Regions from separate parts of the Homo sapiens genome. Here region 2 is linked to region 1. Evidence: fine-mapped expression QTL. A gene starts in region 1. The other region holds a variant in brackets. All regions are shown on one strand. Distances are from middle to middle. Region 1 holds the start of JADE1 (jade family PHD finger 1). Region 2 has its middle 90 kb from the start of LINC03140.

Evidence for each region. PIP is the estimated chance that this variant, and not a neighbour inherited with it, causes the effect.
Region 2: its variant is fine-mapped to the expression of JADE1 in thyroid (GTEx, PIP above 0.99).

Annotation. Positions count from the first base shown.
Region 1 is chr4:128,803,294-128,818,668 of GRCh38, forward strand. JADE1 (jade family PHD finger 1) reads left to right here and starts at 6,407. Exons shown (of 11, transcript NM_199320.4): 1 at 6,407-6,584. RefSeq lists enhancers at 1-251, 6,810-6,919, 9,663-10,244, 10,245-10,826 and silencers at 6,230-6,709, 7,220-7,339, 7,970-8,249, 8,370-8,469, 8,650-9,219.
Region 2 is chr4:128,652,763-128,668,137 of GRCh38, forward strand. No RefSeq gene overlaps it. Among named protein-coding and RNA genes, the nearest start is that of LINC03140, 90 kb to the left of the region's middle. RefSeq lists an enhancer at 1-299. The variant C/T (reference allele first, on the strand shown) is at 7,637.

The DNA of each region.
Region 1 (15,375 bases):
TGACATGCCCCAGGGACTCTGTAAACCCCAGAGACATCCCCCAGGTACCCCTTAGAGCAGCAGCTCCAGAACTGGGGGAGCTGGAGGCCTCTGAAGAGCTGAGACAGTGTTAACGATGCCCTCATCACAGGGTGGTTTGTTTGCCTATCTGCACTCCACAATCAACAATGATAGTTCAGCCTGCCTTCAACTGTCATCTAGCCTCCTAACTAGGCTTACTCTCTCCAGTCTACAAACCCGCCGCCCTCCCAACCCATCCAGTTCCCTACCCTGAAGCCAAAGGGCTTGTAAAAAGTCAACATTTGGCCCCCATCCTCCTCCTCCTCACCTGGCTGATGCCTTCGGGTTTCAGCTTTAGTGTCACTTATTTTTAGACTGACGTCTTCTCTGACCACCCTCTTCCCACCAGGCAGATCAGGTGTATGCTATATGCCTCCCCCAAACCCTGGAGTTTATTGAAATCACTTTTTAATATTTTCTACTGGCCCGTGGACAAAGAATAGGCCTACTTGCCTGTTTTACCTTGTCTCCAGTGCCTAGCCAGCCCTGTGCCTGGGACATACTAATTGCTTAACACATTTGTCTGAGGAATGAAGAAACATTAGACAAGAAAGTTCAGAAAACAGTTGGTTAGAGGTGGTAGGTGGGAGTGAGACCTACATAAGTGTTTTTCTGATTGAGTGTGGATCAGAACTACCAGGAAGGGTTGTTAAAACACAGATTGCCGGATCCCACTTTCTGTTTCAGTAGGTCTGGGGTGGGGCTGGAAATAATGCATTTCTGACAAGTTCTCAGGTGCTGCTGCTGCTGATTAGAGACCTTATGAGTTACATCCGTTCTGTTGTTGGTAAGAAAAGGCTGGAGGGGTAGATCAGAGGACTTTCAGATAAAAAGAAGGGTAAGGTGGGATGTATAGACTTTGGAAATCTGAAAGGTAGTGGTCAAAATGGGAGATACTTGAGTTTGATAATAAAGATGGCAGAAATTTCCAGTAGTTGACAAGGTCCAGGGAGAGTAGCTATGAGAATGAATAGCCAAAGTAACCTGTGGAGGAAGGTATAATAACACAGAGGGGGTCAAAGACCTGAAATGCACAAACATTGCATAAAAGTATTTAATACCCAAATGGAAAAATTGAAAGATGTAAGTGAAAAGGAAGGATGTAAAATGGAATGTGTCGCATCATTCCAATTTTAGGAAAAATGCATAGAAAAAAGACCAAAAAATGGACAATGTTTATAATAGTTATCCATATGGTTGAGTTTTATTACTTCATTTTTCTAAATTTTCAAAATTTCATTATCATGTATTCCTTTCATGATTAGGGAAGAGCTTTACTTATTTTGAACCTCCTCAGCTTTGGTCATTTCCATCTGGTGGAATTATCTCCTGTTATCCCATTTCATACTTACTTCTCTTTGACATTTTTACTTTCACTAAAAGTATGGAAATCAACAAAATTAAAACAACCAAAATGAAAAGCAAGCAAAGGAAAACAAAAAGAAGGGGAAGAAAGAATCTCAAGAAGAAAGTAATTTAGTTGGTACTGACACCAACAAGAAACAAATATTCCATATATTTGGAGGTTGTAATGACCTGCCTGGAGGAGCTAAAATGTTGTTAAGGACTGGTGACTTCACCAACAGGTCAGACAAGGAATTCTAGTCCTAATCTCTTACCCTTCATCTCCTGTGTCACGGAGTTCAGATAGGTGTTGACTGTGGCTCTCAACTTTTCTTGTTCAGAATTATATGTACCATACATTAGGACAAGGGGTGTTAAAAAACAAAAAAGAATTATATGTCCTTATTCCTCTTTGAACTACATCCCTCCCTCATACAATATTACTCAACAAAGTTAATAAAAAGTTATTATTATTATTTTTTTGAGATGGAGTTTCGCTCTCATTGCCCAGGCTGCAGTGCAATGGTGCAATCTCGGCTCACCGCAGCCTCCGCCTCCTGGGTCAAGCGATTTTCCTGCCTCAGCTTCCCAAGTAGCCGGGATTACAGGCATGCGCCACCACGCCTGGGTAATTTCTTTTTTTTTTTTCTTTTTTTTTTGAGATGGAGTCTCGGTCTGTCACCCAGGCTGGAGTAGAGCGGCAAGATCTCAGCTCACTGCAAACTCCGCCTCCCGGGTTCAAGCAATTCTTCTGCCTCAGCTTACCAAGTAGCTGGGATGACAGGTATGCACCACCACGCCCAGCTAATTTTTGTATTTTTAGTAGAGACGGGGTTTCACCATGTTGGCCAGGCTGGTCTTGAACGCTTGACCTTGTGATCCGCCTGCCTTGGCCTCCCAAAGTGCTGGGATTACAGGCGTGAGCCACCGCGCCCAGCGAATTTTTATATTTAGTAGAGATGGGTTTTCACTATATTGATCAGGCTGGTCTCAAACTCCTGACCTCAAGTGATCCACCCGCCTCAGCCTCCCAAAGTGCTGGGAATACAGGTGTGAGCCACCACGCCTGGTTGAAAAATAAAAAGTTATTTTTTATCATTTAGTTATTAGAATTATTTTTAAAAACAACAATCTAAGCCCTCTTTAGTAACAAGACATTTTTGGCACAAAATTCCAAAAAAATTAAAGTACATGCAAATAAACTTTTAGGATACAACCCATTTTATCCAAGATTGCCCTTTTACAGTAAAAAAAAAAAAAATTCTTCTCTCTGGGTGCAGGCGCAGTGGCTCACGCCTATTATCCCAGCACTTTGGGAGAGCGAGGAGGGCGGATCGCTTGAGCTCAGGAGTTTGAGACCAGTCTGGGAAACACGGTGAAATCCTGTCTCTACAAAAAATATGAAAAATTAGTCAGGTGTGGTGGTTCATGCCTGTGTTCCCAGCTACTTTGGAGGCTGAGGTGGGGGAATTGCTTGAGGCCTGGAGGTGGAGGCTGCACTGAGCCATGTTGGGACCACTGAACTCCAGCCTGGGTGGCAGAGTGAGACCCTGATCTTGAAAAAAAAAAAAATTATCTCGTTGGAATGTATACCAACTGACAGTGGTATTTGCCAGTAAGAATTTCTTGCTCATTTCCCTAAAGGAATGAGATAATACAGGACTTTAGTGTATGCATCCCTTCATTTCAAATATGAACAATTCTGAATCTCTTATCAAGGCCTTATAATTCTTTACCTACAGAGAAGTAGATGAAATGACTAAGTAAACATTCAGAGGTTTAATCAAGTCTGGTTTCAAAATCAGGAATATGAATATAAATATCCAAATTTCTATTTCATAAAAACCCATTATTATGGAAGAAAATAATTAAACTGTTTATGACTACAGCAGAATGTACAGGATATATAGAATTGTAATTATCACCACGAACAGGAAAGACAAGAATCTTGATATTTCTATTACACTGAGTACCTTGTAGCTATTTTGTTGAATGTCTTTTCATCTCTGATAATAAGGTGTGAATTAAAAAGAACTATTCCAGAGACTAGGAAATGATGATCCGGAATGATTTGGCAAGGTAAGACAGTAAGTGACAGAGTGGAATCAGAAACTCGCTTTCCTAATTGCCAGCTTAGTACTTCTTATTCTAGGCTGTATTATCTGTGCTGCCGCAAGGCAAACCATATCATTGCCTTTCCCATTTTAGAAATAGGTTGTATAGGAGTTTCCTTTGTGGTCTGATGGCAAGAGACACCTATTATTTAAGAAATGCCAACTGCTGATCATTGATGACAAAATATTTTTACATGTTCCTTATGGATTCAAGTTGTCCGCCATTTCTTCAAATAATCATCACGTTTCTAAGTTTGGTAAGAAAATCAGAAATGACTGAATGTTAAAGAGAAAGGGGCCTTAGGCATTATTTTTCCTATCATCTCAGTGGGGAAACTAAAGCCCAAAGAGTCATATTGGGAGTTGGTGGGAGTCTCCTGACTTCTTGTCCAGGGCTATTTATAGCACATAGCACTGTTTCAGTGGATGAGTATTCTGAAGCCACGGCATAATTGAGACTCTGTACATGGCACCTTCACTCATGTTCAATGTGTCAGTGTGGGGAGTTTGTGTGCCATTTTATCCCTTTATTTTTGTCATCCATTTTATTCAATACTTTCGTTGGTGCCTGATGTTTTTGATAGAAAAAGCAAATAAAAGAGTAAGCAGCAAATGTGAGTTAAAAAAATTTTTTTTTTGAGACAGAGTCTCGCTCTGTCGCCCAGGCTACAGTGCAGTGGCGTGATCTCGGCACACTGCAAGCTCCTCCTGCCGGGTTCACGCCATTCTCCTGCCTCAGCCTCCCCAGCAGCTGGGACTACAGGCGCCCGCCACCACACCCGGCTAATTTTTTGTATTTTTAGTAGAGACGGGGTTTCACCGTGTTAGCCAGGATGGTCTGGATCTCCTGACCTCGTGATCCGCCCGCCTCTGCCTCCCAAAGTGCTGGGATTACAGGCATGAGCCACCGCGCCCGGTCGACAAAAATTTTCTTAACATGAATGCGTGAAGTAAGGCTGTTTGGAATTTAGAAAAGTTGCAATTTTTGATGGAGAGAAAACCAAGAAGGAGTTGAGTGATGGCCGAGGGAGTGGACAACCTCCTACTGCCAGGGCCTCTACTCCTGAACTGTTATGAGGTTGCCTGATTCCTCTTAACAACCCTTCAGGTTAGGGGCCAGCTGTTAACTTAATTTTATTACCAGGGAAGAAACTGAGGCTCAGATAAAGTTCTTTTATCCCACAGGCACACAAACTGCTAACTGATAGAGCCAGATCCAGCCATGTCTGGCTACAAAGCCTGTGTACTTTAACTTCTACAGAGAGTATGTGCGAGGTGAACCAGTAAAAATAACAATAACAAGTGCAATACTAAGAATAGTAATAATGATAGTTAACACAGTGCTTTACATGTGTGATCGCTTTGAACAGGATTAAGTGAACACATGAATAGGACTGGCAGGGAGTCTTTCTACTCTTCATTAGCGAAACAGGAGAGGACATATACAGTACTTAGGATTTCCACTGGCTTACTTTGTTTTCTGAAAAATAACTGAAAGGCTCAATTAGTTTTGTTTTGTCGCATTTATCAGATTATAACGTTCTGGATGTGGGTCTGGATGTGGGTAGTTGGGCTGGTGTGGGATTACATGAAATCAAACCTGATATATTCAGAAAGATTCTTCCGGTGGACACATATGCCTTTTGGGTTCGATATTCAATTTTGTAATTAGTGATCACTGTTCCTATTTATTTATTTATTTATTTGAGACGGAGTTTCGCTCTTATTGCCCAGGCTGGACCACAATGGCGCATTATCGGCTCATCACAACCTCCACCTCCCGGGTTCAAGCGATTCTCCTGCCTCAGCCTCCCCAGTAGCTGGGGTTACAGGCATGTACCACCATGCCCGGCTAATTTTGTATTTTTTAGTAGAGACAGGGTTTATCCATGTTGGTCAGGCTGGTCTTGAACTCCCGACCTCAGGTGATCCGCCCACCTAGGCCTCCCAAAGTGCTGGGATTACAGGCGTGAGCCACCGCGCCCGGCCTGAATGGGAGTTTTTAATCCGTACTTTTTTCTTATTGAAGTTGAATGTCATATACCCCTCTATTTCCCTAGATGAATCCATGAAAGAAGTATGTTGCCCTCTATATGAAAAAGCAAGCTTGTCTTCTGCAGAAAATCAGTAACCACTCCTTTTTACACATAAATACCCCCAAATGAATCTCCGATGACTGATCTGATACTAGTCTGCAATTCTAGTTTTAGCATTAGGCTCACTCCTCATATTTGGGAGAAGATGTCCAATTCTGTAGTAATGTGTAACATAAAGTGGTGTCAATTTATAAATAATATCTTCTAATGAATTAATGCTCATTTGCAATGATCACTTCCATACAAATTTAGGTAAAGATGTTATTCAGAATTGGATTCTCTCTATTTAAAAATGTCATCCTAATGTGCAACTCCCTAAAACTGTTACTACAAACAACTATTTTGCCACTCAGCCTAAAAATAAAACCTTTCACCCAAATGACACATCTTAATAGCCATATTTTAATCTACGTAATTTTAAACTATTCTGAAAGAATCCATTTCTAGATGTCAGACAAGAGTTGAAACTGGGACAGCAGTTTGAAGGGGCTAATTTAAAAACCCACTTGCTTGGAGACACCTCAAGAATTTCTAGGCTCACAAGGTGGGTGAAGTAAGGAAAGAGACTAAGAGCTGAACAGTGCCGTTCTTTGCGAGCCCCCACTGGCGCAGGCTGAGCCGGCTGCGGCTAGGGCTGCGAAGAGTTAACGAGGGACCGAGCCCCAGCGCCGCGGGCTCCCCGCATGCTCCCTCCGCCCTCCCGTCCCCACCCTCTCGTTTTGGCAAGGGATTAAAGTGCTCCCCCCTGTGGCAGCAGTGACCCAGAAATGAGTTTGATTCACATAGTCCTTCCTCCATAACAAGCCAAACGCCAGACCGAGAGTGCCTCCGTGCGCGAGTGCCCGGTGTGTGCGCGCCGGCGAGAGCAGGGGCCCGCCCGGCTCCCCGCCCGCCGCGGCCCGAACTCATGCAGCTCCGAGCGAGCGAGCGGCGCCCAGCCCAGCGCCTCGGCCGAACCCCTCCGCAGCAGGTACGCGCGCGGGCCGCGGGGGGCGCGCGGGGTGGGCGCGCCGCGCGTGTGTCCGCGCGTGTCCGCGTGTGGGTCCGTGTGCGCGTCCCGGTCCCGCGGCGGCGACGGCGGCGGCGGCGGCGGCGGCTGCAGGACGAGCCGAGAGGCTCAGCCATATTTGATGGTTTTGTTGCTTTGCTCGGGAGTTCTCGGGAGTAATTTAATGCCGAAGGTCGCTGCCTAGTGGAAATAATATAATACGTCATTAATATGGCGCCAAAAGATTGGGTTCTCGATCTGTAGCGAGGAGGGAGGGAGGCAGCCGCTGAGCGCAGCGTTACTATCCCACCAGTAACTTGGGCATTGCCGGGGCGGGGGCCGGAGGAGGAGGAGAGGATGATTTTTGGATCCTGAGAATTGATCTATGTTGGATCAGTAAGTTTTATTATGATTTTTTTTTTCAAATTTGGGGGGCTGAAGACTTAGAGCTATTTCTTCTTTTGGATTTGCGAAGAACATGCGGTTTTCAGGTGAATCATCAATTAAACGCGTTTAGGAGCAGAAGCCCAGTTTAAGTTGGCTTTAGTTTATAGGTTTTTTTTTTTTTTTTTTTTTTTTAGAAAGCCAAAGTGCATTAGGCTGCATGAAAGTGGAAAGCATAGTAGCAACTTGGTAGACAGATGGCAATGGCAGAACGCAGGTTCGCGTACATATATGAATCCAGAGTGTGTGAGACCGTGTGTGTGGTGGGACTGTATTTGTCCAAACATAGGTGTGCGTAGGTACATCTGTGTGTGGTGGCCGCAGCCCTGGCTCTTGTCACCGCGTCACCACATGTCCAAAATATTCATTGCATCAATTCAAGGGCAGTGAGAGGGGGGTGGGGGTGGGGGTGGAGGGACAGTTTGGCAATTAGATTCTTCCGAACTGGGCTTCCAGTGATCAGATCTTTTACTTACAGCGCGACTGCTTGTAAAGTGTAAAACCCCTTAATCGATGAAATGGGGTAGGAGTTGGCGTTGGTAGAGCAAAGTACCGATTAATCGTGAACTTAAAGGGGATTGCAAATTGCAACCTTTGGCACCATCTGCAAATTGTGGGGGTGGGGTCTCTTGGTCTCCTTGCTTCCTTAAATGAACGTGTAGTGTGTACCCCGGGACTGCAAGTTGCAGAGCCCTTCAGTGCACGTGTCTTGTGCCTGTGAGTCTGTGTTTGCGAGTTGGGGGCTGTTGTTCGGTAGCCAGCAGGCTTTCCGGGTTGCTCGGCATTGGCTTGCAAATGCGGGAGAGGGATGGAATGTGGAATGTTGACCGGGGAACCGAATCCTGTCGGAACGGTCCCATTTGCTGGAGAAATTCGATCCCTTCCACCTCCTTCCCGCTCCCCCCCGCCCGCCTTCGGGCAGGAGGCGGGGCTGAGGACGCGGCTGCTGCTCAAAGTGGCGGAGCGCGGCGGCGGGAGGCAGGTGCACGGCACCCGCCAGTGGGGGTGCCTCAACTTCCGCGGGCGTTTAAATAGCAGCCTCTCTCCCCTCCCACCGGTAATAGGTGACCTGGCGGCCGAGGGCGGCGGGGGAGGGAACCGGGGGAGACTCGGGAGCGAGCCTCCGCGGCACGTGGGCAGGTGCTGGGTGGCCCCGGGGCCAACTTTTGTAGCCCGCCTCTGGTGTTTGAGGAGAGGCGGCCCAGTGTGGAAATGGGGGCGGGCGGCGGCCGAGGCGCTGCTTCTCCGCTGCGGCCGGAGCGTCACCTAACGGTCCCAGCTGCGCCGCCCGGGCCGGGGTGGGGGGTTGCGGGGGCGGGGACGCCCGGCCCGCCGCGCCCGCCCCGCACAAAGCCCGCGGCGCGGGGGTGGCCGCTGCGCCCCCGCCCCGGGAACGGCCCGAAGCCCGACGCGGTCCCCGCGCCGGTTCCGGCGGGCGGCCGCAGGCGTTTGTTTGTTGGTTCCGCGCCGCCTTCCTCGCCGGATGGCTTCCTGTGACAGAGGTGATACACAGTTTCCAGAACTGTCTGGGGGCGGGAGCGGGAGCGGGAGCCGAGCCCGCTCGGAGCTCCTCGCCGCCGCTGCCGCTCCCATCTTAAAACCGTTTCTCGCCGGCGCGCCCGCCCCAGCCCGAAGGTGCCGCCCCGGAGGGACTCGGGGAGGGGGACGGCGCGGCCGTTTCCAGCGGCGCAAGTGGCTTCTGGACGCGAGGGAGCGTTTGATTTGCAACTGGGGCCGAGCGGATTGGTGCAGCTGGCGGCGGCGGGGCGGGAGGAGCTGCCGCGGCGGGGGGTGGCCACTTTCAAATGGAGAGGGCGGCGGCGGCGGGGACGCCGCTGCGGAGGGAGCGGGGCTTGGTTGCGCCACGAGAAGGTGTCATCACTGCACCGGGGCTAATTCCGGCGGAGGTGCCGGGAGTTACTTTCCCCTCCTCCCGCGCTGTTGTTTCTGTCGCCTCGGGAGGAGGAGGAGGAGGAGGATTGGGAGAGAGGGAGGGGTCGGCGCCGCGCGGAACCGCGGCCCTGCGCATTCCCCGGCGGGCGGCGGGAGCCGCGCGGAGCGTTCGCCGCTGCGGGGCGGCGGCCGAGCTCCCCCACAACCCCGGGGTGCCCCCCTTGCTGGGATCCTTAGCCTTCTCACGTCCCCTCTCACTCCGCCACCCTCCCACTAGAGCTCCTTATTCTCGAGTCCTCAACCCCGGCTTGGCGCGTCCCGGGTCTCCCCTCGCCCCAGGATTCCTCCCGCGCCAGGCTCCGCTGGCCCCAGGTTTCCCACCCCAAGCGGGTGGGGGCGGCCGCAGTCCCGGCGCCGGTGAATGCTGAGAGCAAACAAAAAAGCGGGCGATTTAAACATGCCTTCGAAACCCGTTAGGAATGCGTCGTCATCCGGAGACCGTTTAAAAGGAGCTTTAGCTTGCCTTCTAGTAACGAGAGGGCTGGCGCCCTGCCTTACTTCGGCAGGGGCGAGGGGCTGTCGCCCTCTATTTGCCCCGGCCAAGAGGGAATTTAAATTTTCTTTTGTAAAATGACAGCTGCAGTGAATGACCTGAGACAGCTACGTTTTTAGGAAAGTAGGAGAGGATCTGAGGTTTCCATTAATGGGAATGCTTAGGGGGTTCTTTCCCAAAGGTTTTTTATTAGGTGAACTATTTTTCCTTTTTATAATACCCGCCATGAAGGCTAGCTCTCTTGCTACTTGTAGCTCAAGGCTAATACCTTTCAAAGCTAATGAACTAGTTTTAAGATAGAGGGAAATTATTTCCCTGAAAGCTGATTTAGGTAGTGACTCCCCAGTGGTTACAGATTTTATAGTAAGTTGCATTTTGATCATATCACAACTGATCAAGATTTAATCACAGGTGGAGAAAGGTGGAGAAAGGAAGCATTCAATATGTCCATACTTGCATTGAGTCAACACTTTTGATGTAATAATTTGTTGTAGGTGGGCAACATACGTGGGGGGAGTTAAATGGGATGTTTTGTGAGTAACACTCTTAGCAAGTACATGCAACCCAGAATTTTTATTGTCCTTTTATCCCAAAGATCTTAGTCTCATTTACTTACGGTCACTTTTTTTTTTTTTTTTTTTTGTTCCTTGAGACAGAGTCTTTCGCTCTGTCACCCAGGCTGGAGTGCAGTGGCATGATCTTAGCTCACTGCAACCTCCGCCTCCTGGGTTCAAGCGATTCTCCTGCCTCAGCCCCCTGAGTAGCTGGGACTACAGGCGCGTGCCACCACGGCTGGCTAATTTTTTTTTGTATTTTTAGTAGAGACGGGGTTTCACCATATTAGCCAGGCTGGTCTCGAACTCCTGACCTCGTGATCCGCCCGCCCCGGCCTCTCAAAGTGCTGGGATTACAGGCGTGAGCCACCACGCCCAGCCTGCTTACGGTCACTTGTAAATCAGATGACTTTCTGCTTGGTATTTTGCTGTCTTCTTCAAAGTTTGGATACTTCTATAAGTGTCTTTTACTTGGCATTGTCATTTTAATGTGTAGAATAAATATAATTTTAAGCTGTTTAAGTGTTAGGTTTCCTGCTATTTCCTTTGGTCCCTATTTAGCAGAGATAATGGGAGTGTCTGAAAGTAAGGTAGAACTTGAACTTGATTCCACCTTTAAGAGTACAGACTGCTTACTAGTAAAAGTTGGGTTGGCTGCACATATATTTTAGCTTTAACAAAGGTAGATATGTGTTCATTTAAAAGAAAAAAAAAAAACCCACCTTCTTAGTTCTCCCCGCTTCACTTGACTGGTTTTCTGCCTGTAAACCAGTGCTGTGCTTATATTAGTTATCCAGGTTGAAAGAGTAGCTATACAGGGACAGCAATGAAAAGTATGTGTGTCTGGGTGAAACTAGAGGGAGAAAACCTATTGGAGTTTGAGGAAATGTGTTTTGTTGCTTAGCCTAGGGGGTTGGAGAAGAAAGATGACCTAAAAAACAAACTTGGAGGACTAGGTGAGAGTAAAAGCAGATTTCCATTGCGTCTTACGTATAGTAGGCACGTGACCGATATTAATTTTTGACTTTAGCTGTTAAAAAGTTATTACACAAGTAGTGTTACATGTACGTTTTTGAAAATTAGAAAATACAAGGAAACAAATATAAAAACAAATTGCTACCATCCATAGATGACTACTGTATTACTTTTCAGATAATTTTCTATGCATGTGCATGTGTGTTTTAATAAAAATGAGATACATGAATATACCATCTGTAAGGATTTTTTCTTTTTTTTTTTTTTTTGAGATGAAGTTTTGCTCATGTTGCCCAGGCTGGAGTGCAATGGTGGGATCTCACTGCAACCTATGCCTCCCAGGTTCAAGCGATTCTCCTGCCTCAGCCTCCTGAGTAGCTGGGATTACAGGCTCCCGCCACCACGCCCAGCTAATTTTTTGTATTTTTAGTAGAGACGGGTTTTCACCATGTTTGTCAGGCTGGTCTTGAACTCCTGACCTCAGGTGATCCACCTGCCTCGGCCTCCCAAAGTGCTGGGATTACAGGCGTGAGCCACCGCACCCAGCTCTGAGGACCTTTTTTTTTTCTGTCAGCTAGCTTGGTTAGTTTTAATATAATCTATTACTGTAACATGTCCAGATTTCCCCATTTAGCCCCAGACTGTAATAGAGAAGCTTTGTCTAAACCACTGCCTAATAAAGGACCATTTATTGCATTTGGTTGTTTCCCTTAAGTCGATTTTAATCTTAAGTAACTTTTTTTTTTTTTTTTTGAGACGGAGGCTTGCTCTGTCACCCAGGCTGGAGTGCAGGGGTGCGATCTCGGCTCCCTGTAAGCTCCGCCTCCCTGTAAGCTCCGCCTCCCTGTAAGCTCCGCCTCCCTGTAAGCTCCGCCTCGCGGGTTCACGCCATTCTCCTGCCTCAGCCTCCAGAGTAGCTGGGACTACAGGCACCCGCCACCATGCCCAGCTAATTTTTTTGTATTTTTATTAAGACGGGGTTTCACCGTGTTAGCCAGGATGGTCTCGATCTCCTGACCTCGTGATCCGCCCGCCTCAGCCTCCCAAAGTTCTGGGGTTACAGGCGTGAGCCACCGTGCCCGGCAATCTTAAGTAACTTTTTGACAGAATATCTGACACTGAGGAGGCAAGCCTTTGGAAATAAAGTTGCCTGGATTTTAAAAAAGCAGGAAATCCAAATGGTATTTATTGTAATTTGGAAATCTTAAATTTGGAGATCATCTGCTTGCTTGATGTTACTTTCCACAGACTTGTTGGAAAAAGATTTATCAGATGTTTGTGTTTCAGTACTGAGGTGGTTGGAACAGTAAACATCAAGATATCAAATACAGATTACATCCTGTCTCTTTAGGGTTTGGTCAGAGAAGAGGAGGCATAGGAATCTGTCACAGTTCTGCTTGCTGCTTTACTTTCTTGTTTGTGAAGCTCTTCCCTGTCATTTAGTATTATGGGGCACCTGTTACAGCATTACAGTTAATGGTCTGTCAGAATTTGCATTATAAAACTGGTTTTCCTGTGAGGTTTATAAAACAGTTATAGAGGGAAATATGACATATTAGCGAACACACCTTGCTTTTTATTTGGGTTGGCATTAAGAGGTTTAGCTTGATTGTTAAAACGGTGAAAGTTACGTCACGTTTAAACTTATTTCCTCCCTTGTACAAGCCTTTAGAGAATTGGCACCATATTCAACAATACTTTTTTTTTTTTTTTAAACATGAAGGGTGGGTTTGCTTGGAGTTTCTGGTTTCTTAGAAGGTATCAGCAATCTTAAATTAGGAAAGTATTTTAATTCCTGAGACAGGTAAGTTGTTTCCTTAAAAGTCTTAAATCTGTTTTCTCCGTTTTCAAGTCCTTGCAGCACTTTATATGACCATGTATTTACAATCTGGACAATTCTTTTTATGTTTGTGGAATGTAATATCTCAGAAGTTGAGATTTAGTTGAGTCTATTGAGTCTATTGTCCTTTGCCTAGTGTATTTCTCATATGAAAACTTTGGTTTGTGATCATGAGGGTGTATGCATTATTTTTATTTTTTCTTTTTTTGCAGTTCATAGCCCTGATGAAGCAAGTTACTCTGCTCTCCTAATAAATGCAAGAAAATGACCTTGGAGGGCCTTTTTAATTACACATAGAAGTGACAATTTGTAAGTTTAAGGTTGGGTGTCATGGAATAGAATGGAAGAAATTGATGCTAAAAACTTTGGCTATGATGGGGCCTTTCCTAGCCCAGGACTTGAATGATTATTAAGGATCCTTTCCTCACCTCAAAGCACAAACATAAAGATTACCAGACTTGGACTGGAAAGCCTTTATCACTAGGAAAGGGGCCATGTATTTTTACGTTTAATCCCTTAGACCCATAGTGTACGATGTGCACACAGTAAATGTTCAGTGACCAAATTTTGGTTACTCTAAAACGAATTCAGTATTTACTTTTTGCCTTTAGTTCTTCAGGTAGAGGTAGGACATAATGTGATAGAGAGCAGTTGAAGAAAGTTAATTTTTAAAACCTTAGATTTTTTTGGGCTTACTTGTTGAGGGAAGTAAACTACATTTTCTCTCTCTTTTTTTTTTTTTGAGACAAGTTCTTGCTCTGTCACCCAGGGTGGAGTGCAGTGGTGGGATCTCGGCTCACTGCAGTGGGTTCAAGTGAGTCAGCCTCCGGAGTAGCTGGGATCACAGGCGCATGCCGCCGTGTCTGTCTAATTTTTGTATTTTTAGTAGAGACGGGGTTTTACCATGTTGGCCAGGCTGGTCTCAAACTCCTGACCTCAAGTGACCCACCTACCTCGGCCTCCCAAAGTGCTAGATTACAGGTGTGAACCACCATGACTGGCCAGTTTTCTATTACTTTGAAAGCGCTCACAATTGACATCTGTCTCTTTGTATTTTTTGTTAGAGAGATGAGGTTTCACTATGTTGCTCAGGTTGCCCAGGCTAGTCTTGAACTCCAGAGCTGAGTCCTCCCGCCCTGGCTTCCTAACTGCGATTACAAGTGTGCACCTGTGTGGCTGGTGGAAGTAATATTTTAAACTATTGATCATTTAGTGTCTCCTGTGCAGGAGATTTTATTATTTTGAGAATTCATGGCATCTTCCATGAGAGTTTATAAGGACTTACTTTAAGTGAAGATTTCAGTGGTGTGGGTCCACACTGAGGCATAAAATAATCTTTTTGTTTGTTTGTTTCCCACTTAAACCAGGGTAAGGAACAAGAAATAGCAATGTTATTAGCAAGTTGCTTGAGGTTGAACTTCATGGCTTGCTTTAATTTAGCACAAAGTACACTAAATGCAATTTAAATTTTTTATTGATTACTCTTTGTCATAATCTTTACGAGCATCAGTTACTTCCATGTGGAAATGCCATGATGCACTTAACATATAGAGGCTGAGTGTTGGTGGTTGTAACTTTTTAAGTTGGGGACACTTGACACTGAAACCCATGGAAGCTCTCCCCCAGAAAACATGGGTGTTTCCTTAAGCACATCCTTGGATTCTAGTTTAAGTGTTTAAATTCTGGTGACTTCTTTTTATGATTTCTCTGTGATCCTTTTACTGCCACTGTTACCATGTATTGTAGTTAAAATGCCTGTTGAGAACAGTGATTTTTCTGCTTATTGGTCATTAACTTGAAAATCAAATAAGAAGCCTGTTAGAAGTTTTTAAAACTTGTGTACACTGGCTCCAAGTAGGAGCCTCAGGGGTTTTCTTTTGAGAAAAACCCACTGGTTTTACTGTGGCCTTTATTTAAGTTGCTTAGAGGTCTCCTCAATGCCTTCCTTTTGATTATTCTAGTTAGGGACTTCTTTTTTTTTTTTGAGATAGAGTCTTGCTCTGTTATGCAGGATGGAGTGCAGTGGCATGATCTGGGCTCACTGCAACGTCTGTCTCCTGGGTTCAAGCAATTCTCCTGCCTCAGCCTCCCGAGTAGCTGGGATTACAGGCGTGTGCCACCATGCCCTGCTAATTTTTGTATTTTTAGTAGAGACGAGGTTTCACCATGTTGGCCAGGCTGGTCTCGAACTCTTGACCTCAGGTGATGCACCCGCCTCAGCCTCCCCAAGTGGTGGGATTAGAAACGTGAGCCACCATGGCCGGCCATAGTTAGGGACTTCCTAAGGAGTGATTGTGTCTGATCCTTAATTTTGTAAGCTTTCGGTTGCTTGTCCAGCACCTGGTAATTGATTCACATTGAACTAAACACGCATAATGGTGGTTTATAAACATCATACTACTGATCGGTTGATTTATAGGACAGATCAGTTGCCTTTCTCTGTAAAGAGCCAGGTAGTCAATATTTTAGGTTTTGTGGGTCATATGGTCTGTCGCAACTGCTCAAGTCTGCAGT
Region 2 (15,375 bases), 150 kb before region 1:
GTTCCTCACAATACACCTAAAGAAACCTTGATCTAGCCCAACATCCTTATTCTGGCAGGTGAAGAAATGGAGGCTCAGACCAGTTGATTTTTTCAAGGTCACAGAGAAAGAGCTCTTGTTGCCCAGGCTGGAATGCAGTGGAGCGACCTCGGCTTACCGCAACCCTTGCCTCCCGGGTTCAAGTGATTCTCCTGCCTCAGCTTCCCGAGTAGCTGGAATTACAGGCATGCACCACCATACCCAGCTAGTTTTTTGTATTTTTAGTAGAGATGGGGTTTCACTACTAAACCCCATCAGGGTTGGTCAGGCTGGTCTCAATCTCCTGATCTCGTGATCCACCCGCCTCGGCCTCCCAAAGTGCTGGGATTACAGGCGTGAGCCACCGCGCCTGGCCCCTGAAAATGTTTCTTATAAAGATCATGCGACTTGAAATATTTAACATCATTTTAACCAACAAAAGCCCCATATTTTCTCCCATTTACAGACGTTCTACATATAGGATCTGTTTTGCAAACATGACGCTGTTGTTTATAACCATGGAGACATATGTTGTTTGCGCTTAATATTGTACTGTATGTGAGAAAATGAAATGCCTTCTATATGTGATGCTAATTCAAATTTTATCTTGTTATATGGACTAAATATTACATGGAATTGTGATAGAATCGCCCTGTCTTAAGTACACTGTTTATTCTAAGAGTTGTGATAGGCTAAGGGGGGAAAAACCCCAAGTTTTATTGCTTTACAAGCCAACCACGTTAAGAGCATACATCTGCTTTAAAACTATACAATTTCTTTTCTAGTGCCCAAGTAGATTTGCTCTGGGCTCAAGCAGTTATTAAACCCCGGCGCTGTCTCTGATAGCTGCAGTTTGCATTCCAAGCATGAGCACAGTGCTGGGGCAGGACAGGCTCGGCTCAGTCAACAGATGTCAACTCCCCTTGTAAACGCAGCTGCTCTGTCTCACAACTGGCAAAGAGAACTGAAGGAGTTCCCTTCCCTTTATGGCTTTTATCTCTCTGGCTAATAGGGGATGATGCTTAAAGGAGGTAATTCTTGAGCAATAAATCCAGACTGCAAATAAAACAAGGGAAGAGGGAGGAAAATCACAATGTAAGAAGTTTCCTTTGTTTACTACGCTTAATTGGGATTCCACACATGAATGAAGAAGAGAAGACGGTCTCTCCCAGGGTGACTGGGAAAGGGAAAAAAAGGTGGGTTCCTCTGTCTGTGTGCTTTTTAATGTGCAAATTAGTCAGAGCCTTTTCCAACCCAGGAAAGCTTACAGTTCTGAGTACAGGGTCAGTGTCTTAGTAGTGCTCAGTAAATATTAATTGAAGGGGATGATGGCTTTAAGGGGTGAGCTTCATTCCATTCTCTCAGGACAGCCCTCCAGCCAAGTACCTAAAGGTCACTCTGCCTCTTGCCTCAAGCATTATCTCAATGACCCCTTTAGTTAATGAGAAAGCTCTCAGTTCTCTTGTTTGCCTTCCAACTCATCTTCAGTTCTTGCCAATTTATTCCGCCTTCTGCACTTAGAGGCCGCTGAGAACAAAGCAGGGATGAATGGCAACAACAGCTGCTGCAGCCCCACTTCTTGGGCACAGTCCTTCACCATGGAGCTCTCCAAACTACCCTCCTTGAGCTGGCATTGAAGAGGAGGGGCTTGAAGGAATAGGCTGGAGAACTGGGTAGGGGCTGCAGCAAGGAACATAGATTGTGTTTTTGTTTCCAGCAACTCACTCCCCATTCTGACAGATTACACAGACTTGTGTGACTGGTGAAGGGTATCCAGGTTCTTGGCATTTTGAACAAAGAATTGGACAAAAATGCACAAACAAAGCAACAAAAGAGAAGCACAGATTTATTGAAATGAAAGTACACTCCACAGAGTGGGAGCAGGCTCGAGCAAGCAGCTCAAGAGCTCTGGTTACAGAATTTTCTGGGATTTAAATACCCTCTAGAGGTTTTTCATTGGTTATTTGGTGTACATCCTGTGTAAATGAAGTAGTGGCCCACGATCAGCCCAATTGGTTAAGGAAAACAATCAATCAGAGGCTGAAGTTAAGTTACAAAGTTGCAACCTATGCAAACGTCTGATTGGTTGTGGAAAGTGACCAATCAGAGGCTGAAATGAAGTTATAGAGTTATACTCCTATGCAAACGAAGACTTGGCCCAAGATCAGTCTGATTGGTTGTGAGGGGGGACCAATCAGAGGTACTTTCAATTTTTCATCTACCATGTGGAAAAGCGGGGAAGGGGGTTGCAAAGGCAGTAGCCTCTCATCCTTTTGTTACTTGGGTGTGGAAAGTCAGGCTTTTCCTTTTGATTTAGTTCTAGGAAGTCAGGGTAAATCAGCCTTAGGTTCCCTGCCTCCAGACCCTATTCTCCTTCTCTTGGAGTACCTCCTATGGGAGAGTCTACAATTTCTGCACCTTTGATGTCAGGCTTGGGCACGTGAGTGACTAGGCCTTGTGGGTGACCTTGACTATGCCTCATCTGTGCCAAATCTTTAAGAGTGATTGTATTCCACCAGCTCTCTTGCTGTTTTCTCTCTGTCATAGGAATGGCATACCCCAAAATGGACTGCTCTTTCAGCCTGGATCTGGAATGAAGAAGACATAAAGCCAGTTTTGATGCACCTGTCTTCTTTATTCCAGATCCAGGATAAGTATTTGTAGTTGTAACTGAGATTTTGGGGTTGCTTGTTACAGTAGCAGAGCTGACTAATGCATACCCTGCAAGTGCAGTGGGAAAAAGAAGTTTGTGACCTGAGTATCCCACCAATACTTGTCTTTACCCATCAGGCTGCCAAACTGTGATGAATAATAAGAGCTCCTGCAGCTCTTGTACCTGCTGTTTGACACTGCCTCAACAGTCTCCTTGACTAAATAAAGCGAGTATATTGTATAATATGGCATTCCAACTGCCAACACAGCAAGCAAGGGGCTTCTAGAAAGGGAATCCCCTCTAAGGTTGGAGAAATCTTAGCTTTCTCCAAGATTCTCATGTAAAACATTGTATCATTCACTTCTCTGAGCAGAAATCCAGATAAACCTAGTGCCTTCTCCAACCTTGGAGGTACTAAGCTGCCTTCTAAGAGGAGCAAAGGGACCTGTGGTAGAGTGTCATGATGATATGGGTAACTTTGACTCATTTATACTTTGCTTTTTATCTATGGTCTTCCTCCAAAGCATATGCTTAGTGTAAATTGTAACTAAATACTGATTTAGACTAATGTCCGAGTGGAAAATAACTATCTAAAAATAAAATATTCATGAATTTGAGTTCAATTATAGCTTTATGTTGTTGTTATTAGGGACTATCCTTTGTTGGTTTAAGTCAGCTCTGTGCCTTTATGAAGATGGTTATATGAAAATATTGAATTACACAGCTTCCTTTAGGAACTCTTTGACTGTAAAATTTTCACACACTTGTGAAATTTAAGCAGATTACATTATACCAATAGATTTTTGATAGCTATCTTAAAATAATGAGTTCAAACCAAGAGACGATTATAACTGACAACAGAAATGTAACTGTGAACTTTAAAAATATGCTAATGCTTGTCCCTATATAGAAATATTAGCTTAAGTTCTTTCTGTGACATATGTGTGTTTATAATCTATTTTTGTAATAGGGTAAAAAAATCAACTCCAAAAATATCACTCTCCCCTTTGACATTTATCAGTGATAGCAATAATGCCAGCGAGCATTAGTACACTGAAGAAGTACAGAGATGCCTCCTAAGGCATATCTTTAGGTTTTATCTTTAAATGATCTCCTTATCCCTGACTTAATTTGAATGATGTTTTAGATCAAATTCATATATAATGAATGGTGACTATGTTGATCTGGTCCTGCTCGTTTTTACAGGTTTAGGGTCTTACAGAATACATAAAGCTCATAAGGGGGACTTAAAATGATTTGGGGAGACAGACAGACAGATAGATATATGGATAGATGGATAGGTGTATGAAAAACCAGATGAAAGAATGGATAGATGGGTTGCTTCTCTACTCCAAAAATAAAATAAGAAAAGAAAAATATTACGTAGTCATTTCTGTACTGATACTAATTTAATCTATTTCAGAAAGAAGGTCATATTTTCTTTCAATTTAAATAATGCAAATGCAAATAAATATAAATTAAATTGTGATAACGATTGTTATCATGGCAAAAAATTAAAATGCCTATCTCGAGGCATCTTTTGCCTTTAAGTGCTACTTTTCTCTTACTCTTGGAGGCTCAGTGGTGATTAATGATATTCTTCACACTCTCAAAGGCTTTCTTTAGGAACCCTTTCCCAGTGACCCCACAAGAAGACAAGGCTTCACCAGCTACGGAGGACATATGGTTTAAAGATCCTCAATTACTCTAAGGTAGTCACAGGCTGTGAACAAAATTTCTGTCATATTCCTGTAATGCCTTTTATAGGGAGAAGCAGGGAAATCCAGATTAGAATATAGTTTTCCTGGTGAGATTTGATGAGGTTTATAATTGTCTGAGAGTTTGGTTCCTATAGCTCCTAGACCCCTAAGGTTTTAATTATCAAATATTTGATTCAACCTTGAAAATAAGAACCTTTGAAAGAAAAGCAACACTTCCCTCCTTTGAAAAGCCTATATTGACCTTGCACCTCTATCTAGCAGCTGCCCTAGTACTGTAGCAGTTAACCCTAGTCACCACCATCCTTCTTGAACTTGACTCCTCCCCTAGCTTGTATGACTTTACTCTCTTTTTGTTCACCTCTCAAACCACTCCTTCTCAGAGTCCACTGCTGGGTCCCATCCATTGTCCACCCTTAAACGTTGACTTTCTTCAGCCCTCCTCAATTCTCACTCTGTACCCACTCCCCTGGTTTTAATTCTCACTGCTACACTGGTAACTCCTGACTCTATATATCTAGTCTTGATCTCGCCTCAGCTCCAGACCCATAGATTCGAGTGACTACAGGGTATCTACATTGGAGTGCCCATATGTAAACTCCCACTGTGCATCCTGTTTCTTGGGTATTAGACACTTTCCACTGTACTGTATGCCTGGAATTTGAAAGTCATCCTCTCTGAGCTCAATTACCAGTAGACATTAAACATCTCAGCGCTTATCTTATGGCAGCCATTGTGCTCGACTGGGAGATACAGAAATGAAAAAGACATTTTCTACCATGAAGAAACTTTTACTGTAAGGAGAGAAGAGGAAAAGCAAACAAAAAAAGGCAAACAAAGGCAGAGCAGGAGTGATATTGAAGAAGGAAAACCCTGTAAGTAGAAGGAGGAGAAGAGAGTAATCCTGAGTGAGGATTGAAGAAGAGACAGCAGCAAACTGGGCCTTGAAAGATGAATAGAAACTTCCTCCATAAAAATGGGGTAGTGGGAAGGGAGATAGTCCAAAAGGCAGGGAAAAGATGACCAGAAAAGCAGGGCGTGATTGCACAGCTCATTTCATTCATTCATTCCCCTAATTGGAGCTCAAAAACTGTCCTAAGCTCAGAGGAAAGGGAAAAATATGATGTGCCAACAGCAGTGTGTGTGTGCTGTGTAGTGGTGGGGTGTGTGTGCGCGTGTGTGTGTTGGGGAAGTCAAGGGGCATATGGTTGAAGAAACTAGAAAAGTAAGTTGGGGCCAGCCCTGAAAGCAGATGTTTGTTTCATTCACTTGAATGAAATGTACTTTGTACTTCCTGTGAGAAGGATAGGCCACTAAATTTCAGGGCTGATATTCACTTATGTATTTACAAAATAATACAAGTTGACATCAAGTTAAAAATATACTACCACGTGACTTCCTGCCATACACCAGAGAAATTCATAGCGGTAAAGTAAGTATTTAGTGAGCCAACATGTTGTGGATCTTTTTCCAAGCCTCATTGCTTTCCTGGCCAGCTCTGGACAAAAAGGCAAGTCAGGTTAAGAAGAAGAAAAATAGAACAGGGAGAAGGAAAAGGGGAAGGGGGAGAAGGGAGAAGGAGGGGAGAAGGGAGAAGGAGGGGAGAAGGGGGAAGAGAAGGGGGAAGAAGAGGAGTGGGGCAGGAAAAGGAGGAAGAGAGAGCCAAAACAAGAACAAAAAGAACAAGAACAAGAAGACCAGGCTGGGTACGGTGGCTCATGCCTGTAATCCCAGCACTTTAGGAGGCCGAGGCGGGCGGATCACCTGAGGCCAGGAGTTTGAGACCAGTCTGACCAACATGGAGAAACCCCATCTCCAAAATACAAAAATTAGCTAGGCATGGTGGTGCGCACCTGTAATTGCAGCTACTGGATGGGGGGTGGGGAGCGGGGGTGGTAGTGAGCACTGAGGCAGGAGAATCACCTGAACCTGGGAGATGGAGGCTGCACTGAGCCGAGATCGTGCCACTGCACTCCCGCCTGGGCAACAGAGCGAGACTCCTTCTCAAAAAAATAAATAAATAAAAAGGACAAGAACACCAACAACACTATTGATCATGTAGAATGCTCCTGGCCGGGCGCGGTGACTCATGCCTGTAATCCCAGCACTTTGGTAGGTTGCAGTGAGCCAAGACCATGCCACTGCACTCCAGCCTGGCGACAGAGCGAGACTCTGTCTCAAAAGACAAAAAAAAAAAAAAAAAAAAAAAAGAGAATGCTCCCATATTGAGACATTCTTAGCATGAAAAGGAATGCGGATTGAAAAAACTGGTTTTAATGGGCCCTATGTACATTGAAGTCTCACAACAGCTTATAGAGACAACATGGAAGTATGAAAACTTTTTTAAACCCAGACTGTGTTACTAGTTCTGAAACAGAAGCTATGTTTTACAAAGATAGATGATATATAATGTCTAAAAGGATCAGGCTTAAGAAGGGAACAGGCTAATGCAGACAGTGGTTGGCTTCCATGAGGAATGGGAAAACCATGGTGATAGAGCTCTGTGTTTGGTTAGTGTCATCTGAAGAGCAAGAAGAAAATGAACCAGAATTTGGGCTTCCAGGAGTTGCTGCTCAAGGGGATCAGAGCCACATCTGTGTGAAATGGCAGCTGGTGGCAAAGCAAAGTCATTTTCCTTTATTATGATAAGTAGTTGTGTAACACACAGGAGTGTACACCTTCCATCCATAGTATTAGAATTGGTTTATCTGGGTCGGGTGTGGTGGCTTACACCTGTAATCCCAGCACTTTGGAGGGCCATGGCAGGAGGATCGCTGGAGATCAGACGTTTGAAACTAGCCTGGGGCACATAGTGAGACCTTGTCTCTACTAAAAATAAAAAATATATATATAGCCAGGTGTGGTGGTGCGTGCCTGTAGTCCCAACTACTCAAGAGGCTGAGCCAGGAAGATTGCTTGAGCTCAGGAGGTGAAGCCTGCAGTCAGCCATGATCGTGCCACTGTACTCCAGCCTAGGTGACAGAGTGAGACCCTGTCTCAAAAAAAAGAAAAAAAAAAAGAATTGGTTTATCTGAACAACCTGTTAATGTGTTTGAATTGAAAAAGAAATTGTACTTATAGGCTCTATAAATGAATAAACTTGCACCTCAAAGGGTTCGTGGGGATTTATAAGGAAGGCTTGGGAATTCAAGAAAGAAACAGTGATATTAACATGGTGTACTTAAAGGATATGAAAACCAAGGGAAGTTGCCAGATTCAAGAGGAACTACTCTGTGTTCTATCCAAG[C/T]TGAACATTCCATTTTTACAAGGACTCCTTTGTTGTCATGTTTATACACAGACTAATAAATGCTTGACCTTTTTTAGTGATGAAGGAACAGTCTGTGCCTCAGGAGCATATTATTTCAAGAAGCACAAATGAAGAGAAAGTCCAAACCCTCTGGGACAGATGGACTAAATATTTTGGTATTGGAACCACATGGGGAAAGGCAGCAGTTGGGAAACAGAAACAGAGGCCTGATAAGGGAACCTGGAAACAGCATCAATCTTCTCAGAAGTTTCCAAGGACTCCAGATATGCAGGGAACTGGACACCAAGCTCACGTGAGGAAGGAATCAAAGTGAATGAAACATTGATCTTGAAGTTAGTAAAATGCAGTAAGTGAGGAAAATATCTGTGTTCTTGTGAAAGAGTTGATTTCTCAACTTTGGGGTTCTGTATAAAAATGACTAATATTCATCAAGCATTGGCTTTCTACTTAGAACAGAGTGTTTATATGAATTAACTTATGTAATCATCACATCAGTCTTATGATGCAGGCACTGTTCTTACTGCACCCACCTTTTTTCTTATATAGACAGAGAGGTAAGTAACCTCCCAGAGTCACAGAATGTTAGAGTGACTTTGACCGCGTTTATGTAGTCTCATGCCTGAGCTCACACTCTTGTGCCTCCCAGGGACTTTAGCAATCACCTAACTCTGATTTGCTTCCCTCCCCTCCTTACCCCAGCTTTCTCCCTCACTCCCTATTCTAAACAATTAAGAGTGAACTCAAGAGCATCCAAGGACCTGTGTAGTTGCCTTGAAATACCCCAAATATTTGTGTGTCTTAGGAATGACAAATCCCTGGTAATCATTACAATAATGATGTGGTATTATTATGAAGTATTTCATTAGTACTTATTCAATGGTGTTTCTAACATTGTATGGTTAAGTATCACCTCAAGAGTGAAGAATAATAATTGATGATAATGATCACGGGAAGCTGATATTTTAACTTTTGGTTCAAAAAGCCTTTACTTTGGAGAACCAGAGACCAATGATGAAATGTGATGTTCCAATTACAGGGCTGAAACCACAGGTATCTGAAATGCAGTGGAAAAAAACAATGAGAATGTGAGGGCCCTAGGTAACATGAAGCGATTGGTCTCGCTGTTGGGCATAATGAACTCCTACCTGCACTCAGTGCCACATGATGCAGAGTTTATGGTGCCTCTGAGACTGTTCGTAAAGAGAGGCGTTGTGTGGGACTGATAACAGCTCTGCTCAAGGACAGCAATGATGTCTGCCACATCCTTGGAGTTGGGAATTACCTGGCCTCGTTACCTCCTCCCCACTCCTCCCCACCCCAGGAATCTGGATGCTCAAGGCTTGACTATTTCCTCCATTCTCCCCTCACTCAAGCCCCGTGTTCAGAAGCAATCAGATAAACTCATTCATTCTGAAAAGTTTAATGTGTGACTCTTCCAAGGACAGTTTGTTTTAACAGAAAATCAAGTTTCAGAACAAATGTCCAACAGGTCCCAAATTTAACTCACTATACTCAAGAGTGTGAAAATCAAAAAAGTAAATTTTTGTTTCCCATGAAAGATCTAATCTTAACTCTCTGGCCTTCCCACACTGGGTGCTATGAAGAAAAACTCCTAAAATTGCTATTTAAAGCCATCTCAGTCTTTTCTATCTTAAGATAGTCTTAATTGGAGCAATCATCTAATCACTTACAATTTACCTCTTTTAGTTTTCTGTTGTTGCAAAAAAAAAACAAAAACAAAAACAAAAAAGCACACATACTTAGTGGCTTGAAACAACATGAATTTATTATCTTATCCTTCTATAGTTCAGAAGTCCAAAATGGGTCTCTTTAGGCTAAAATCAGATGTCAGCAGGGCTATGTCTCTTTCTGGAGGCTCTAGGGGATAATCCATTTCTGTGCACTGTCCAGATTCCAGAGGCCCCTCATATTCCTTGGTTTATGGTCCTTTCCTGCATCTTCAAAACCAGCAACAGTGTGTAGAGTTCTCACATCTCTCCTCTCTGAACGGACTCTTCCACATTTAAGGACTCTTGTGATTATACTGAGTCTACCCGGACAATCCAGGTTAGTCTCCTTATTTTAAAGTCAGCTGATTAGCAATCTTAACTCCATCAATTACCTTTTTTTTTTTTTTTTTTTTTTGAGACAGGGTCTCTTTGTATCACCCAGGCTGGAGTACAGTGGTACCTGGCTAATTTTTTGTAGAGACAGGGTTTCACCATGTTGCCCAGGCTGATCCTAAACTCCTGGGCTTAAGAGATCCTCCCACTTCAGCCTCCCACAGTGGGATTACAGGCAAGAGTCACTGTGCTTGGCTTTCCATCAGCAATTTTAATTGCCCTTTATCCCGTATGGTAATTTTTCACAGGTTATAGGTATTAGGATGTGGACATATTTGGAGGTCATGACTCTGCCTACCACACCAGCTTTTCTAACTTCTTTCTTCCCCTCCTGCTGCTCCTTCTCAAAATAGTGCATGGGTACATGAAGGTAGAGGAGAGAGGGCCTCAGACTCAACGGTTGTTTGTTCTCTGGATCCTTGCTGGTTTCTACTACTGCGATGGGCTTATTTCTGGTTGGGCTGGATCCCACTGATGAAATCTGTGACAGATGAATTTTTGTTTATTATAATTACTTTACGCTACATAACTAACCACCTCAAAACTTAGTGGGTTAAACGATCATTTTGACAATGAAAACAATTACATCTCATGATTTTGTGGATTGACTGGGCTCTGCTGGGCAAATTTTCTGTTCCACAAGATGGAGTGGATGTCACTCATATGGCTGTATTCAGCTGGGAGCTTGCCTGGGGCTAGAACATCCAAGCTGGACCCCTCCAGGGTCTTTTTCCTCACATCCTCTTACCATTCAGGAGTGTAACCTGTTTCTTCACATCACAGTAACTGGCTTCCAAGAGAACAAAAGTAAAATCTGCCAGGCTATGTCCTCAAACCAACATAACATCACTTCTGCCACAATCTTTTGGTCAAAACAAGGTGCAGTGTCAGCCAGATTCAAGGGGAAGGAAAACAGACTCCTTGTCTTCATACATCTAGGTAGAAGAGGAAATGGTAGCAGCTGTATTTGCGGGCAAACTGCCAGATAACCTGTTTCAATCTTAGCTTGGTCAGGCCTGAGGCACTGACTTTGTGACACCTGAGTGTCAGTCACTTCCCTAGCCTAGGTGGCGTGCCCTGCAGCCCTATGCCCAAGTCTCTTTCCTTCTCTCATGGCAAACTCAGGCCAGCCTCATTATCTACGTTCTGCAGCCCCAGAACTGGCAGGAACTCCTGGGCACTTTGGGTGTTCAGGCTGCTGAAGGAAGCTTAGGAATGCCAACTTAGTCTTCTCCAGTTGGAGACTGTGCTGTGCCACCATTTTTATTCTGCTCATGAGGCTTCTTGGTCCAGTGGAGCCACCAAGCGTGGTGGTCTCCTCCAGCAGTTACAGTGGGAGATACAGCTTGCCTGCTAATGAGCTACAGGAATCATGGATTTCCTGGTTAGAAGAGTGGAGTATAAACTCTCTCCGCTTTTGGATTTCTCCTCAACCCATCTCATTGCTCTTTCCTCCAGGATTTTGTCCCAGAAGGTCAGATCAGAACATCCATGCTAACTGCTTAATTTTCATAGTTTTCCGAGACAAAAGGACCTTTTTCCCCTGCCCCTTTCTACCTGATAGAGGCTTTTCTCAGGTTATAACTCCTTTTTAAAAGGTAGCATTTGTCTGGTCCATTAAGCTGCTGGGGATGATAATGGGAGACGAGGGGGATTACAAATAAAATAGTTTAATGTTTTCAAAATATACCATCCTCATAAAGAAACAAATCTCTAATTAGGACATTTAAATATCAGTCGTTCAGGCTGGTGGACTGAAGGCTCTGTCTCGGGTCTCACTGCACTAGGGCTGCAGCAGCCACTTCTCTTTGAAGATGGCTATTGCCAGTTAAGACCTTCCAGGAAGCCAAGGCATGAAAGGAAGCACAGAGCCCTGCCATGTGCCCCACCTTCATGTTCTGCTCACCACCAAGCACACCCATGCCCACCCGCACACTCTGGAAGTCCCTATCACCTGGGCCTTCCAGAAACCAGTCACCTCTCCTGCTCATGGTTCCTGGGTCTTCCCTCCCTTTCAGACAACAGAGGTCCCAGCTCTATTCATGCTGTCCAATAAGCTGGGATCAAGCATATGTTGTCAGGACCTGAAAGTAGAGATACAACTTACCTGTGAGTTACATAAGGGATACTTTCCCAATGATTCTACCCCTTTACCTTTGTTAGAGTGGTTGAAAAACACGTGATTTTAGATTTGCAGTGTATTCAACTATGGTTATACCCATTGTACAGTGATATGTATTTCTCATGACAATCCTGCTTCATTTGGAAATAATAAGTCAAAATGACTGATGTGAAATATCATTTGCCACAGCACATTTGTCATTCTAGGGAGTTCTAGACTTTATGACATTAAACACTAAGAAAAATCTGGGTGCAGTGGCTCACGCCTGTAATCCCAGCACTTTGGAAGGCTGAGGTGGATGAATCACCTGAGGTAAGGAGTTTGAGACCAGCCTGGCCAACACAGTGAAACCCTGTCTCTACTAAAAATACAAAAATTAACCAGGCGTGGTCGTGGGCACCTGTAATCACAGCTACTCGAGAGGCTGAGGCAGGAGAATCTCTTGAACTCGGAAGACGGAGGTTGCAGTGAGCCGAGATCGTGCCATTGCACTCCAGCCTGGGTGACAAGAGTGAAACTCCACTTCAAAAAAAAAAAAAAAAAAAAAAGAGCTGGAAAGAAAAGAAAAGAAAACACTAAAAAAAAAAAAAAAAAGAAGAAGAAGAATAAGACAAGTCCACAGAGCTTAGACCTAGAAAATACACTGATGTTATAAAATTTCTGGACTGTTAGAACTGACCCTACATGCTTTATACAAAACTTATACAGCCTTACTTCCAACAAGATGGTTTTGAGTTAGAAGGCTCAAGAATCATATTTTATGACACTTCAGTTCTCCTGGGGCCTGCAGACAAGTTGGGGATACCTAGATGTGTAGTGCATGCAGTTTTCACACCCAGGTGGGATAAGAGGACCAGAAGCTAGTAATAACTGGATCCACATCAAACTCAGAATGGAAACCTAGGAGAGAGCCAGAACCCAAGGTGAGAGTCCAGAGAATTTTGTCCACCAGCACATATCTGCTTTGAATTCTACTTAGCCAAGAAGAGGCAACATAACACTCTGGCAAGAATTCTGGACCAGGAGTCAGAGTACCTGGGTTTGTTCCAAGCCTTGGTTCTGACACTGACTACTCATGTGAGTATGGGTGACTCGATATCTTCCAAGCATCATTCTCCTTGGGAGAATGAGGGAGGTTGGACTGCGGGTACTTCATGGTTAAAGTCCTCCTCTAATAATATGCCCACAATAACTATACACTAGTGAGAAGGAATAGAAGAGATGAGGTCATACTAAATCCTGTTCACACTAGTTGAGATCTCTGAGGTGTTGAGATCTCTGAGGTGCCAAATGAGAAATAGTCACAAGAGTCCATTGAGATCCAAATATCTGCTTTCTTGCTGAAAAATGCTGAAAGGGAGAATAGGTCTATGGCTGAAATCAAGGCCTTTCTCCTTTGCCTGAAGTCGATTTCTTGAGACCCATAGAAAGAGCCACATTGGATCTGCCAAGCACACACTCAGGCAGCTGAATGGAGGTAGATATTCTGCTTCTCACTGTGTGACCCACCAGACCATATGGGATACCACATGGAAGCTGGAGCTAAGGGGCAGCTTGGCTTGTAGGCAGGCAGCCCTAAAGAGAAAGCCCAGAGGAGCTGAGCTATTTCAGTACTTTTCTATATCACCAATCAGATTAGTCTCTCCTTATCTTGTGGTGTCTTAGCCTGCTCAGGCTGCTATAACAAAATACCATTAAATTGGGTTGCTTATAAACAACGGAAATTCATTTCACACTGTTCTGGAGGCTGGGAAGTCCAAGATCAAGGCACTAGCAGACTCGGTGTTTGGTAAAGGCCCGTTTGCTGGTCTACAGATGGTGACTTCTGGCTGAGCCATCACATGGTGGAAGGGGTGAAAAAAAGAAGTCCCTTGAGCCTATTCTAATAAGAGCATTAATCTCATTCATGTGGGCTTTGCCCTCATGACCTAATCACCTTCCCAAAGGTCCCATCTCCTAATATCATTGCCTTAGGGTCAGGACTTTAACAGGGTTTAGAGTTTTAGACTCGTTTGGACCATAGCATTTGGGAAAAAATGAAGAAGGGGATTATAAGAAAGGGCATAGGTAAACTTTACAATAATTCTGGAAGGCAGAAATTCTCATTTTGGAAGCCAAAACTCTCCAATGTTGGAGGTAAGAAAAAATGGTTTTCCTGACAAGTGCTTCTTCCATTCTTGAATTCTAGGGATGTGTAAAGGAACAGAGTACATGACAAGCAGGAAGCATGGGATAGAAAATGGAAGTTGGGAAATGTGCTGTCAATACCAGCCCCAAACTAATTAAAGAGCAGTTTCTAGATTTCCCAGCCCTCCCCACGCTCATATACTTGGTGAGAAGTGGAAAGTTCATAAAAATTATTGAAAAAGTTTTGGCTGGGCATGGTGGCTCATGCCTGTAATCCCAGCACTTTTAGAGGCCGAGGCGGGCTGATCACTTGAGGTCAGAAGTTCGAGACCAGCCTGGCCAACATGGCAAGACCTGGTCTCTACTAAAGATGCAAAAATTAGCCAGGCGTGGTGGTGTGTGCCTGTAGTCCCAGCTACTCTGGAGTCTGAGGCAGGATAATCACTTGAACCCAGGAGGTGGAGGTTGCAGTGAGCTGAGATTGCACCACTGCACTCTGGCTTGGGCAACAGAGTGAGACTTCGTCTCAAAAAATAAATAAATAAATAAAATAAAAATAAACAATTAATAATTGGGCCGGGTGCGGTGGCTAGCGCCTGTAATCCCAGTACTTTGGGAGGCCGCAGCAGGCAGATCACGAGATCGGGAGATCGAGACCATCCTGGCTAACACAGTGAAACCCCATCTCTACTAAAAACACAAAAAAAATTAGCCTGGCGTCGTGGCGGACACCTGTAGTCCCAGCTACTCGGGAGGCTGAGGCAGGAGAATGGCTTGAACCCAGGAGGTGGAGCTTGCAGTGAGAGGAGATCCTACTACTGCACTCCAGGCTGGGCGACTGAGCAGGACTCTGTCTCAAAAAATAAATAAATAAATAGATAAATAAATAAATGAATAAATATTATTGGAAAAGTTTTGTTATACAGGGCCTTAGTTAAAAGCAACCAATATCCAAAGGATAATATCCCAAATGAGACAGATTGTGAAGAAGGGAGAAAATGAAAATGGTCAATATTTATTAGTATCTTCCCTGTGTTAGGAACTAAACTGGGTGCTTTACATACATGAATTAACGCTTGCAATGAGTTAACCCTTGCAGTGACATTAACCCTAATATAATGCTTGCAGTGAGTTCCTTATAGAGATAAATACTAAAGCTCAGAGAGGTTAAGAAAATTTCAAAGATCATGTAGTTACCATGAGACAGAAACAGGCCTAGAACTTAAGTCTTACACCAAAGTCAGTACTTTTTAAAAAATAATCCATGTTGCATCTAGAAATACTTTTATCCAATGTAAAAATCCCATATAGTACAGGGCTGGTATTTGGAGAGTGTTAGACTATGT